2 separate regions of the Homo sapiens genome follow, and region 1 is linked to region 2. Evidence: fine-mapped expression QTL. A gene starts in region 2. The other region holds a variant in brackets. All regions are shown on one strand. Distances are from middle to middle.

What was found. PIP is the estimated chance that this variant, and not a neighbour inherited with it, causes the effect. A credible set is the group of variants that fine-mapping cannot tell apart.
Region 1: its variant is the best candidate, but not a certain one, in a credible set for the expression of TMEM244 in whole blood (INTERVAL, PIP 0.68).

What each region holds. Positions count from the first base shown.
Region 1 is chr6:129,834,565-129,839,955 of GRCh38, reverse strand. All of the region lies in intron 3 of TMEM244 (transmembrane protein 244), which reads left to right. Among named protein-coding and RNA genes, the nearest start is that of TMEM244, 24 kb to the left of the region's middle. The variant A/T (reference allele first, on the strand shown) is at 3,201.
Region 2 is chr6:129,858,169-129,863,559 of GRCh38, reverse strand. TMEM244 (transmembrane protein 244) reads left to right here and starts at 2,245. Exons shown (of 5, transcript NM_001010876.2): 1 at 2,245-2,404. The coding sequence starts at 2,372. It overlaps LOC105377999 (a long non-coding RNA gene), which reads right to left. Exons shown (of 8, transcript XR_942986.3): 2 at 4,135-4,230.

The DNA of each region.
Region 1 (5,391 bases), 24 kb after region 2:
GAATGTTCTTCCATTTGTTTGTGTCCTCTTTTATTTCATTGAGCAGTGGTTTGTAGTTCTCCTTGAAGAGGTCCTTCACATTCCTTGTAAGTTAGATTCCTAGGTATTTTATTATCTTTGTAGCAATTGTGAATGGGAGTTCACTCATGTTTTGGCTCTCTGTTTGTCTATTATTTGTGTATAGGAATGCTTGTGATTTTTCCATGTTGATTTTGTATCCTGAGACTTTGCTGAAGTTGCTTATCAGCTTAAGGAGACTTTGGGCTGAGACAATGGGGTTTTCTAAATATACAATCATGTCATCTGCAAACAGAGATAATTTGACTTCCTCTTTTCCTAATTGAATACGCTTTATTTCTTTCTCTTGCCTGATTGCCCTGGCCAGAACTTCCAACATTATGTTGAATAGGAGTGCTGAGAGAGGGCATCCTTTTCTTGTGCCAGTTTTCAAAGGGAATGCTTCCAGTTTTTGCCCATTCAGTATGACATTGGCTGTGGGTTTGTCATAAATAGCTCTTTTTATTTTGAGACGCGTTCCATCAATACCTAGTTTATTGAGAGTTTTTAGCATGAAGGGCTATTGAATTTTGTTGAAGGCCTTTTCTGCATCTATTGAGACAATCATGTGGTTTTTGTCATTGGTTCTGTTTACATGATGGATTACGTTTATTGATTTGAATATGTTGAACCAGCCTTGCATCCCAGGGATGAAGCCAGCTTGTTCATGGTGGATAAACTTTTTTATGTGCTGCTGGATTCGGTTTGACAGTATTTTACTGAGGATTTTTGCGTTGATGTTCATCAGAAATATTGGCTTGAAGTTCTCCTTTTCTGTTGTGTCTCTACCAGGCTTTGGTATCAGGATGATGCTAGCCTCATGAAATGAGTTAGGGAGGATTCTCTCTTTTCTATTGATTGGAATACTTTCAGAAGGAATGGTACCAGCTCCTCTTTGTACCTCTGGTAGAATTTGGCTATGAATCCATCTGGTCATGGACTTTTTTTGGTTGATAGGCCATTAATTATTTCCTCTATTTCAGAACCTGTTATTGGTCTATTCAGAGATTCAGCTTCTTCCTGATTTAGTCTTGGGAGGGTGTATGTGTCCAGGAATTTATCCATTTCTTCTAGATTTTCTAGTTTATTTGCACAGAGGTGTTTATAATATTCTCTGATGGTAGTTTGTATTTCTGTGGGATCGGTGGTGATATCCCCCTTATCATTTTTTATTGCATCTATTTGATTCTTCTCTCTTTTCTTCTTTATTAGTCTTGCTAGTGGTCTATTTTGTTGATCTTCTCAAAAAACCAGCTCCTGGATTCACTGATTTTTTTGAAGGGTTTTTGTGTCTCCATCTCCTTCAGTTCTGCTCTGATCTTGGTTATTTCTTGCCTTCTGCTAGCTTTTGAATTTTTTTGCTCTTGCTTCTCTATTGTTAATTGTGATGTTAGGGTGTCAATTTTAGCTCTTTCCTGCTTTCTCTTGTGGGCATTTAGTGCTATAAATTTCCCTCTACATACTGCTTTAAATGTGTCCCAGAGATTCTGATACATTGTGTCTTTGTTCTCATTGGTTTCAAAGAACATCTTTATTTCTGCCTTCATTTTGTTATGTACCCAGTAGTCATTCAGGAGCAGGTTGTTCAGTTTCCATGTAGTTGTGAGGTTTTGAGTGAGTTTCTTAATCCTGAGTTCTAATTTGATTGCACTGTGATCTGAGAGATCAGTCTGAGAGACAGTTTGTTGTGATTTCTGTTCTTTTACATTTGCTGAGGAGTGTTTTACTACCAATTATGTGGTGAATTTTAGAGTAAGTGCGATGTGGTGCTGAGAAGAATGTATATTCCATTGATTTGGGGTGTAGAATTCGGTAGATGTCTATTAGGTCTGCCTGGTGCAGAGCTGAGTTCAAATCCTGGATATCCTTGTTAACCTTCTGTCTTGTTGATCTGTCTAATATTGACAGTGGGGTGTTAAAGTCTACCATTATTATTGTGTGGGAGTCTAAGTCTCTTTGTAGGTCCCTAAGGACTTGCTTTATTAATCCGAATGCTCCTATATTGTGTGCATATATATTTAGGATGGTTAGCTCTTCTTGTTGAATTGATCCCTTTAGCATTATGTAGTGGCCTTCTTTGTCTCTTTTGATCTTTGTTGGTTTAAAGTCTGTTGTATCAGAGACTAAGATTGTAACCCGCTTTTTTTGCTTTCCATTTGCTTGGTAGATCTTCCTCCATCCCTTTATTTTGAGCCTATGTGCGTCTTTGCACATGAGATGGGTCTCTTGAATACAGCACACTGATGGATCTTGACTCTTTATCCAATTTGCCAGTCTGTATATTTTAATTGGGGCATTTAGCCCATTTACATTTAAGGTTAATACTGTTATGTTTGAATTTAATCCTGTCATTATTATGTTAGCTGGTTATTTTGCCTGTTAATTGATGCAGTTTCTTCATAGCGTCTAAAGTCTTTACCATTTGGCATGTTTTTGCAGTGGCTAGTACCTGTTGTTCCTTTCCATGTTTAGTGCTTCCTTCAGTACCTCTTGTAAGGCAGGCCTGGTGGTGACAAAATCTCTCAGCATTTGCTTCTCTGTAAAGGATTTTAATTCTCCTTCACTTATGAAGCTTAGTTTGACTGGATATGAAATTCTGGGTTGAAAATTCTTTTCTTTAAGAATGTTGAATATTGGCCCCCACTCTTTTCTGGTTTGTAGGGTTTCTGCCAAGAGATCCACTGTTAGTCTGATGGGCTTCCCTTTGTGGGTAACCCAACCTTTCTCTCTGGCTGCCCTTAACATTTTTTCCCTCATTTCAACCTTGGCGAATCTGACAATTATATGTCTTCGAATTGCTCTTCTCGAAGAGTATCTTTGTGGTGTCTCTCTATTTTCTGAATTTGAATGTTGGCCTGCCTTGCTAGGTTAGGGAAGTTCTCCTGGATGATATCCTGAAGAGTGTTTTCTAACTTGGTTCCATTCTCCTATCACTTTCAGGTACACCCACCAAATGTATATTTGGTCTTTTCACACAGTCCTATATTTCTTGGAGGCTTTGTTCATTTCTTTTCACTCTTTTTTCTCTAATCTTGTCTTCTCACTTTATTTCATTAATTTGATCTTCAGTCACTGATATCCTTTCTTCCACTTGATGGAATTACCTATTAAAGCTTATGCATGCATCACAAAGTTCTCATTCC[A/T]TGGTTTTCAGCTCCATCAGGTCATTTAACATCATCTCCACACTGTTTATTCTAGTTAGCCATTCATCTAATCTTTTTTCAAGGTTTTTAGCTTCCTTGCAATGGGTTAGAAGATGCTCCTTTATCTCAGAGAAGTTTGTTATTACCAAGTAGGTTTCTGAAGCCTACTTCTGTCAACTCGTCAAACTCATTCTCCACCCAGTTTTGTTCCCTCACTGGCGAGGAGCTGTGATCCTTTGGAGGAGAAGAGGTGCTCTGTTTTTTAAAATTTTCAGCTTTTCTTCTCTGGTTTCTCCCCATCTTTGTGGTTTTATCTACCTTTGGTCTTTGATGTTGGTGACCTACAGATGGGGTTTTGAGGTGGATGTCCTTTTTGTTGATCTTGTTGCTATTTTTTTCTGTTTGTTAGTTTTCCCTCTAACAGTCAGACCCCTCAGCTGCAGATCTGTTGGGGTTTGCTGGAGGTCCACTCCAGACCCTGTTTGCCTAGGTATCACCAGTGGAGGCTGCAGAACAGCAAATATTGCTGCCTGATCCTTCCTCTGGAAGCTTCGTCCCAGAGGGGCACCTGCCTGTTTGAGGTGTCTGTCGGCCCCTACTGGGAGGTGTTTCCCAGTCAGGCTACACGGGGGTCAGGGACTCATTTGAGGAGGCAGTCTGTCTGTTCTCGGAGCTCGAATGCCATGCTGAGAGAACAACTGCTCTCTTCAGAGCTGTCAGACGGGACGTTTAAATCTGCAGAAGCTGACTGCTGCCTTTTGTTCTACTATGCCCTACCCCAAGAGGTAGAATCTATAGAGGCAGTAGGCCTTGCTGAGCTGTGGTGTGCTCCACCCAGTTCGTGCTTCCAGGCCTCTTTGTTTACACTGTGAGCTACTCAAGCCTCAGCAATGCAGACGCCCATCTCCACATCAAGATGCAGCGTCGCAGGTCTATCTCAGACTGCTGCACTAGCAGTGAGCAAGGCTCCGTGGGTGTGGGACCTGCCGAACCAGGCATGGGAGGGTATCTCCTGGTCTGACGGTTGCTAAGACTATGGGAATAGTGCAGTATTTTGTCAGGAGTGCACTGTTTCTCCACATACAGTCTGTCATGGCTTCCCTTAGCTAGGAAAGGGAAATCGCCCCACCCCTTGTGCTTCCCGGGTGAGGCAACACCCTGCCCTGCTTCAGCTTGCCCTCCATGGGCTGCACCCACTGTCCAACCAGTCCCAATGAGATGAACCAGGTACCTTAATTGGAAATGCAGAAATCACCCATCTTCTGCGTCGATCTCACTGGGAGCTGCAAACCAGAGCTGTTCCTATTCAGCCATCTTGGAAGTGACTCCATAACTCTTTTTTTTTTTTTTTAAGAGACAGAGATTCACTCTGTCACCCAGTCTCGAGTGCAGTGCAGTGGCATGATCATAGCTCATTGTAACTTCAAACTCCTGCACTCAAGAGATCCTCCCATCTCCACCTCCTGAGTAGCTAGGACTATGGAGCACACTATTATGCCAGGCTAAGTTTTTTTCAATTTCTTTTAGAGACAGAGTCTTGCTATATTGCCCAGTGTGGCCTTGAACTCCTAGCTTCAAGTGATGCTCCCACCTCGGCCTCCCAAAGTGCTGGAATTACAGGTGTGAACCACAGTGCCCAGACAAGGTCTTATGACTGTTATGCTGTAAAAGCGAGACTAGAATGCTGTTATCTTGACTTCAAATTTTGTATTACTTCCTTTAAGTCATGCTTTCTTTCCTATCATGAACAAAGCATAAGTATTCTCTATTAATATACATGAATGCAGCTTGTACAAGACTAAAATCACTATCTCCAAGCAGCTGCAAGTTAACCTATAAAATCTCTAAATGCTAACAAAAGAGGCATCTCTGTTTCCCTACAATAATGTCGTGATTCTGTAAACCAGTAGGGGAGGGAGGAATGAGATGTGATGGAAAGAGATGGTGTCAATATGACACAACAGGACAGTTCTTTCCTGGATATTAGGTGGCAGGGCATGCTGAACTGATCTCCACTGATCAAAGGAATTCCTGTGCAATAGAAAAGGAGTTAGTATGAATTCTGTATTTAACTTTTGAAACGTGTTAAGTTAAATTAAATAGAATTGAAGAGGAATATGTGTGAGGCCTTTAAAAAGATTGCACCTGGGGCATGCTTCCTTGGTGTCTCGCTTACCGACTGCAATCACTG
Region 2 (5,391 bases):
CTGACTCCCAAAGTGCGAGGATTACAGGCATGAGCCACCACACCTGGCCTCCGCCTGCCCTCTTTAAGGAGAAATTCTGGGTCATCACTGTTACAAATAGGGCAGGGCATGGGATTTGGACAATCAGCATTTACTGAGGGTCCACCGTGTGCTGAAATCTGAAGACAACACTGGGAGCTGTTACAATGTTACCAGCAGGCAGAAAAGTCTTTTTCTGCAAGAACTCACAATATAAGCAGAGAACAGGGCAACCACACATTAAAAGATTTATCTAAGGTATATTAATAAAAGAGCATTGACAGTGTTATTAATATGCATTATGAATGTCAAATTCAATAACATATTCAGATGAAAACTATCAAGGCCTGGACTTGCTGAAGGCACTCTTTTCACCTTTGCTTTTGGTATGCAGGTAGATATTGCAGAATGTGCTCTTTATAGCGGTTAACAAGATGCTGTAATGGAAAAAGGATTACAGGGCACAGCTAAGTTCCCATCTAAAGTTGGTGCCACAGCAAAGCAATCAATCAACAAAGTGAAGACACCAACCCGCAGAATGGGAAAAAAAATACTCAAACACTACCCATCTGACAAGGGGCTAACAACCAGAATATATAAGGAGCTCAAACAACTGTAGAGGAAAAAATCTAATAATATGATTTAAAAATGATCAAAATATCTGAATAGACATTTCTCAGAACAAGACATACAAATGGCAAACTGGTATGTGAGAAGTGCTCAACATCATCGATCATCAGAGAAAGGCAAATCAAAACTACAAAGAGATATGACTTCACCCCAGTTAAAATGGCTTTTATCCCAAAACAGGCAATAACAAATGCTGGTGAGGATGTGAAGAAAAGGACACCCTCATACACTGCTGGTGGGAATGTAAATTAGTACAGCCACTATGGAGAACAGTTTGGAGGTTCCTCAAAAGAGAAAAATAGGACTGCCATATGATCCAGCAATCCCACTGCTGAGCATATACCCCAAAGAATGGAAATCAGTCTATCGGAGAGGTATCTGCATGCCCATGTATATTGCAGCATGTTTCACAATATCCAAGATTAAGAAACAACCTAAATGTCCATCAACAGACAAGTGGATAAAGAAATGTGGTACAGGTACAGAATAGAATTCAGCCAAAGGAAAGAATGAAATCCTGTCATTTGCAACAATATGGATGGAACTGGAGGTCCTTATGTTAAGTGAAATAAACCAGGCACAGAAAGACAAACTTCATATGTTCCTACTTATTTGTGGGAACTAAAAATGGAAACAATTGAACTCATTGAGATGGAAAGTAAAAGAATGGTTACCAGAAGCTGGGAAGGGTAGTGGGAGAAAAGGGGGAGTGTGGGGATGGTTAATGCATACAAAAAAGAGAGAGAATGTATAAGATCTAGTATTTGATAGCACAACAGAGTGACTATAGTCAATAATAATTTAATTGTACATTTAAAAATAACTAAAAGGGTATAATTGGATTGCTTGTAACACAAAGAATAAATGCTTGAGGTGATGGAAATCCCACTTACCTTGATGTGATCATTACATATTAGATGCCTATATCAAAATATATCATGTACCCCATAAACTCTATGGGGTATATTACTATATTACTATGTAATCACAGCAATTAAAAATTAAAATAAAAATAATAATAGAGTTGGTGCCAGTAAAAAGATGGGAGAATGAATTGTAAATGAAGGATTGGTTCTGGAGCCTCAGGACGCAGAGAGACAGAGCTCCAATACTGCCTCCTGGCAGTTCTTGAAAACATTCTACCCACAATATTGTGGCCATTATTTTAGAGTATGGGAACCCTTTTGTTTCCTAACAAAAAGTCATAAGTTTTACATTTCTTTGCCATGATGTGAAAGGAACTGATGATTTCTTTCTCAGAACTCTGTGGCCCTTGTGAGTGAAACAGAGAGGACAGGCCACGCTTCAACATGAATGCAGCAGCATCCTTTGGAAACAATCTCAAGACCTAACTGAAAACCCATGTTTCTAATTTAAGTATGAGACAGTAATTACTCATACAGCCAGAGAGGATTCCAAGTCCCTGCCTATTTGCCGCACTATCTAAAAACAATCAACTCATCTTTCAAATCTGACCAAACTACAAATGGTATGAGAACTCCATCGTTTAATAAGGATGTTCATTTTGGCACTTAGCAGCTTACGCGTGGCTCACAGATGGCATCTGTCTCGTTTTGCGTAATCCAATCATCCTGCACTACTGCGTCTCACACTTAGTCTCCAGGAGTAATTGAAAAGCTCACGGTGACAATTGTGTCTTCTTCCAGATGTCATCGCTATAAGGAGTGGGGCTTTCATCACCTCCTTGACGTAGGATGTGTACATGGCTCTCCAGGTCAGAGTTGCTCCAAGCAAGGTAAAGAGAAATTACTTCTTTGCATTGCCTTTCAGTTGCTGCCTAGCACTGGTGTAAATGAATATGTTCTATAAATGGCCTCTCTGTCAGTGGGCAACTTGTTTCACTTTTGGCTGGGTACCATACAGAAAACATTCTGCTGCACGGCTTGCATCTTGTGGTAATAGGGCAATATAAAGGCACCCATGCCCAAGAAAGGATTCTAAAACATGTAAATAGTCGCTGTTTAGAAGGCACCATTTTATTCGGAGGTAAGCTCTCTGGTATTAGCACCTGCACGTCTGCTATCGTTTTCTGAAATCATGACAGTTTGTTCTCAATCTTTTTTTCTTTTTTTTTTTTGCAGGGAGTGGCTTTTATTTTTGTAACTTCTAAAGGGTGCGCAAAATTTTAAATGCAAAGTGTTGAAACATTTCAAGCTGTAGGTTTGTTAGTTTCTTTTTCCCCCGAGGCTAGTGTTAATAGTTGTGTTTTACTTCAGTGCAAAAATACCCCTTTAAAAAAAAATCAAACAATCGAAAACAAGGAAATATGCAAAGCCTCAAAGCAGCTGTGTAAATTCATACAGGCTTTAGGCCTATAATGAGCCAGACTTAAGGGAATGATAGTGGAAAATCAGATTTTTACTTAAAAATTAAATTACAATTATGAGTGAGTGCTACATTCATTTTAGTAAAATATCAGCACCGTGTGTATTTCCTCAAGCTTTTTCTTTACACTACCATCATCACCACATATGTCATCAGTGAGAAATGTTGAGCATGACAACAGCTAAGAAAAATTTTCAAGGTCAGTAAAACATTATTTCAGGAAAAATATTTTTAAAAAGCTTATTTTTAAGGGGTTATTAAACTTCGTAATTTATGTATAGATTTGGGATTGAACTAGCAATAATAACTTCTGCTGAAGAGATAAAAATTAGAAGATAAAATCCTTTCTCTTAAGTAGCTTACACAAAGAATGGGGGCTCTATATTTAGTCGGGGCTTACACAGACCAGACAGACAGACACACACACACACACACACACACACACACACACACACACACACGCATTGCAGAGAAAATATCCAGATAGTTGCTGCAGTTCCTCACTATCTTAGAATCATCTGAGCTTCAAGTGTAGAATTAGAGCCTTAGAACATTAGAAGAATAGTGAATATGTTCAAAATAGATAGGTTGTTGACTATCTGAATTCTCATGATACATCCCTATAAGTTATGAGTTAACTTTTCTTTTAAGTGCTTGTTCACTGTCAATATTATCAGCACAAGAATTACTGATATGCTTATAAATTAATAGTAATAGCAAAAGTGACCTTCATCTAGAGATAACTCGAATACTCAACAAACATTTATTGAGTGCATGCAATGTGCCAGGCATTGGGCTAATTAAATCCCCCCTATCTGTACACTTTAAATGACAGAAAAGCTGACTCAAGGGAAAGAGTCATGGCCAAAGGCCATTTAATTAATTTGCTGTCTGGGAAAATAGCACAAGAACTGGGAAGAAAGCCCAAGTATGAGGACTGCTAAACTGTTCAGAATACAATGTATTCTACTCCAGTAGACGGCATGTTTCCTAACTATGTTAAACTAATGTAAACTTTCCTCTGTAAAACAAATGTTGTAAAAATCTCAGAAGCACAACACATTCCTGCATATCCTCAGAGTTGTTCACCTGAACTGGAGAATTTCATTCATTCAGGCAATTTCAGAGGGAACTACTTACCAGTAGGACGGAGCCTTTGCTGTGATTCTACAAGTGAGAGAGTCATATCTCATGATTTCTCCAGGAATTGTCCAAAGAACTACAATGCAGTCTTTCCTATGGGGAGAAGTAAGAGAGAAAGTATTATCTATTGGGAACATACAGTACTTAATGTTAAGAATTGTATACATGTTCAGAATACAAATCCCTTATGAAACTTTACCTGTAGATGAGTAGAACAAAACTCAGAAAGTAACCAGCCAATGTCACACACTTGTCAGTGATGAACTGGGGGAGAAACTCCAGTGGATCTGACTTAGAGTCCACATACTTTATTAATAGACTATGGTTCCGGCCAGGCGTGGTGGCTCATGCCTGTAATCCCAGCACTTTAGGAGGCCAAACCGGACGATCACTTTAGGTCAGGAGTTCGATACCAGCCTGGTAAACATGGTGAAACCCCATCTCTACTAAAAATACAAAAATTAGCTGGGTGTGGTGGTGCACACCTGTAGTCCCAGCTACTCAGGGAGGCTGAGGCAAGAGAATTCCTTGAAGCCGGGAGGCAGAGGTTACAGTGAGCTGAGATTGTGTCACTGTACTCCAGCCTGGGTGACAGAGCAAGACTCTGTTTCAAAAAAAAAAAAGACTATGGTTCCTACTATAGTGGTCTTGTCTTCCATTATTTCTTTCCTTCCTTCCATGATTATTATTCAAAATATATTTATTGAATACCTATGAAAGCCTGACCAATATTTTGGGGGCTGAAGAATTAAATGTGGTCAAATCAGTGTCTGTCTTTTAGAGACTGGAGAAAGAAATGTATACCTCCAAAAGTAGGTATGCTACAATACAAATTTGATGAGATCTATAAGACAAATATAATATTATGGAAGCAATTAAAATAAGATAGAGATTGATTCTGTCCTGCAGTGAGGGGTGGAGTGAGAAGATGATATATGAGCCAGACCTAGAGAATATAGCTACTTGCTCTGTAAAGAAGAGTGAAGCTACTGTAGGCAATGGGAACATTCTGCTTTGCAAAATCACACAAGGGCTTCCAGTTTCCATAGACTAAATGGAGAAGGCTATTACAGAAGGACTAGGCCTAGATTTCACAAAAGAATTCTCCTAAGTCTTCAAAGATCATATACTCCCAATGCTACTTAAATCATTTGAGTATAGAAAAACAAGAAAAGCCACAAGAAAGTTTTATGAAACAAGAAATATGTTGTCACCTAAACCATATAAATATAGTACAAAAAATAAACTATAGAT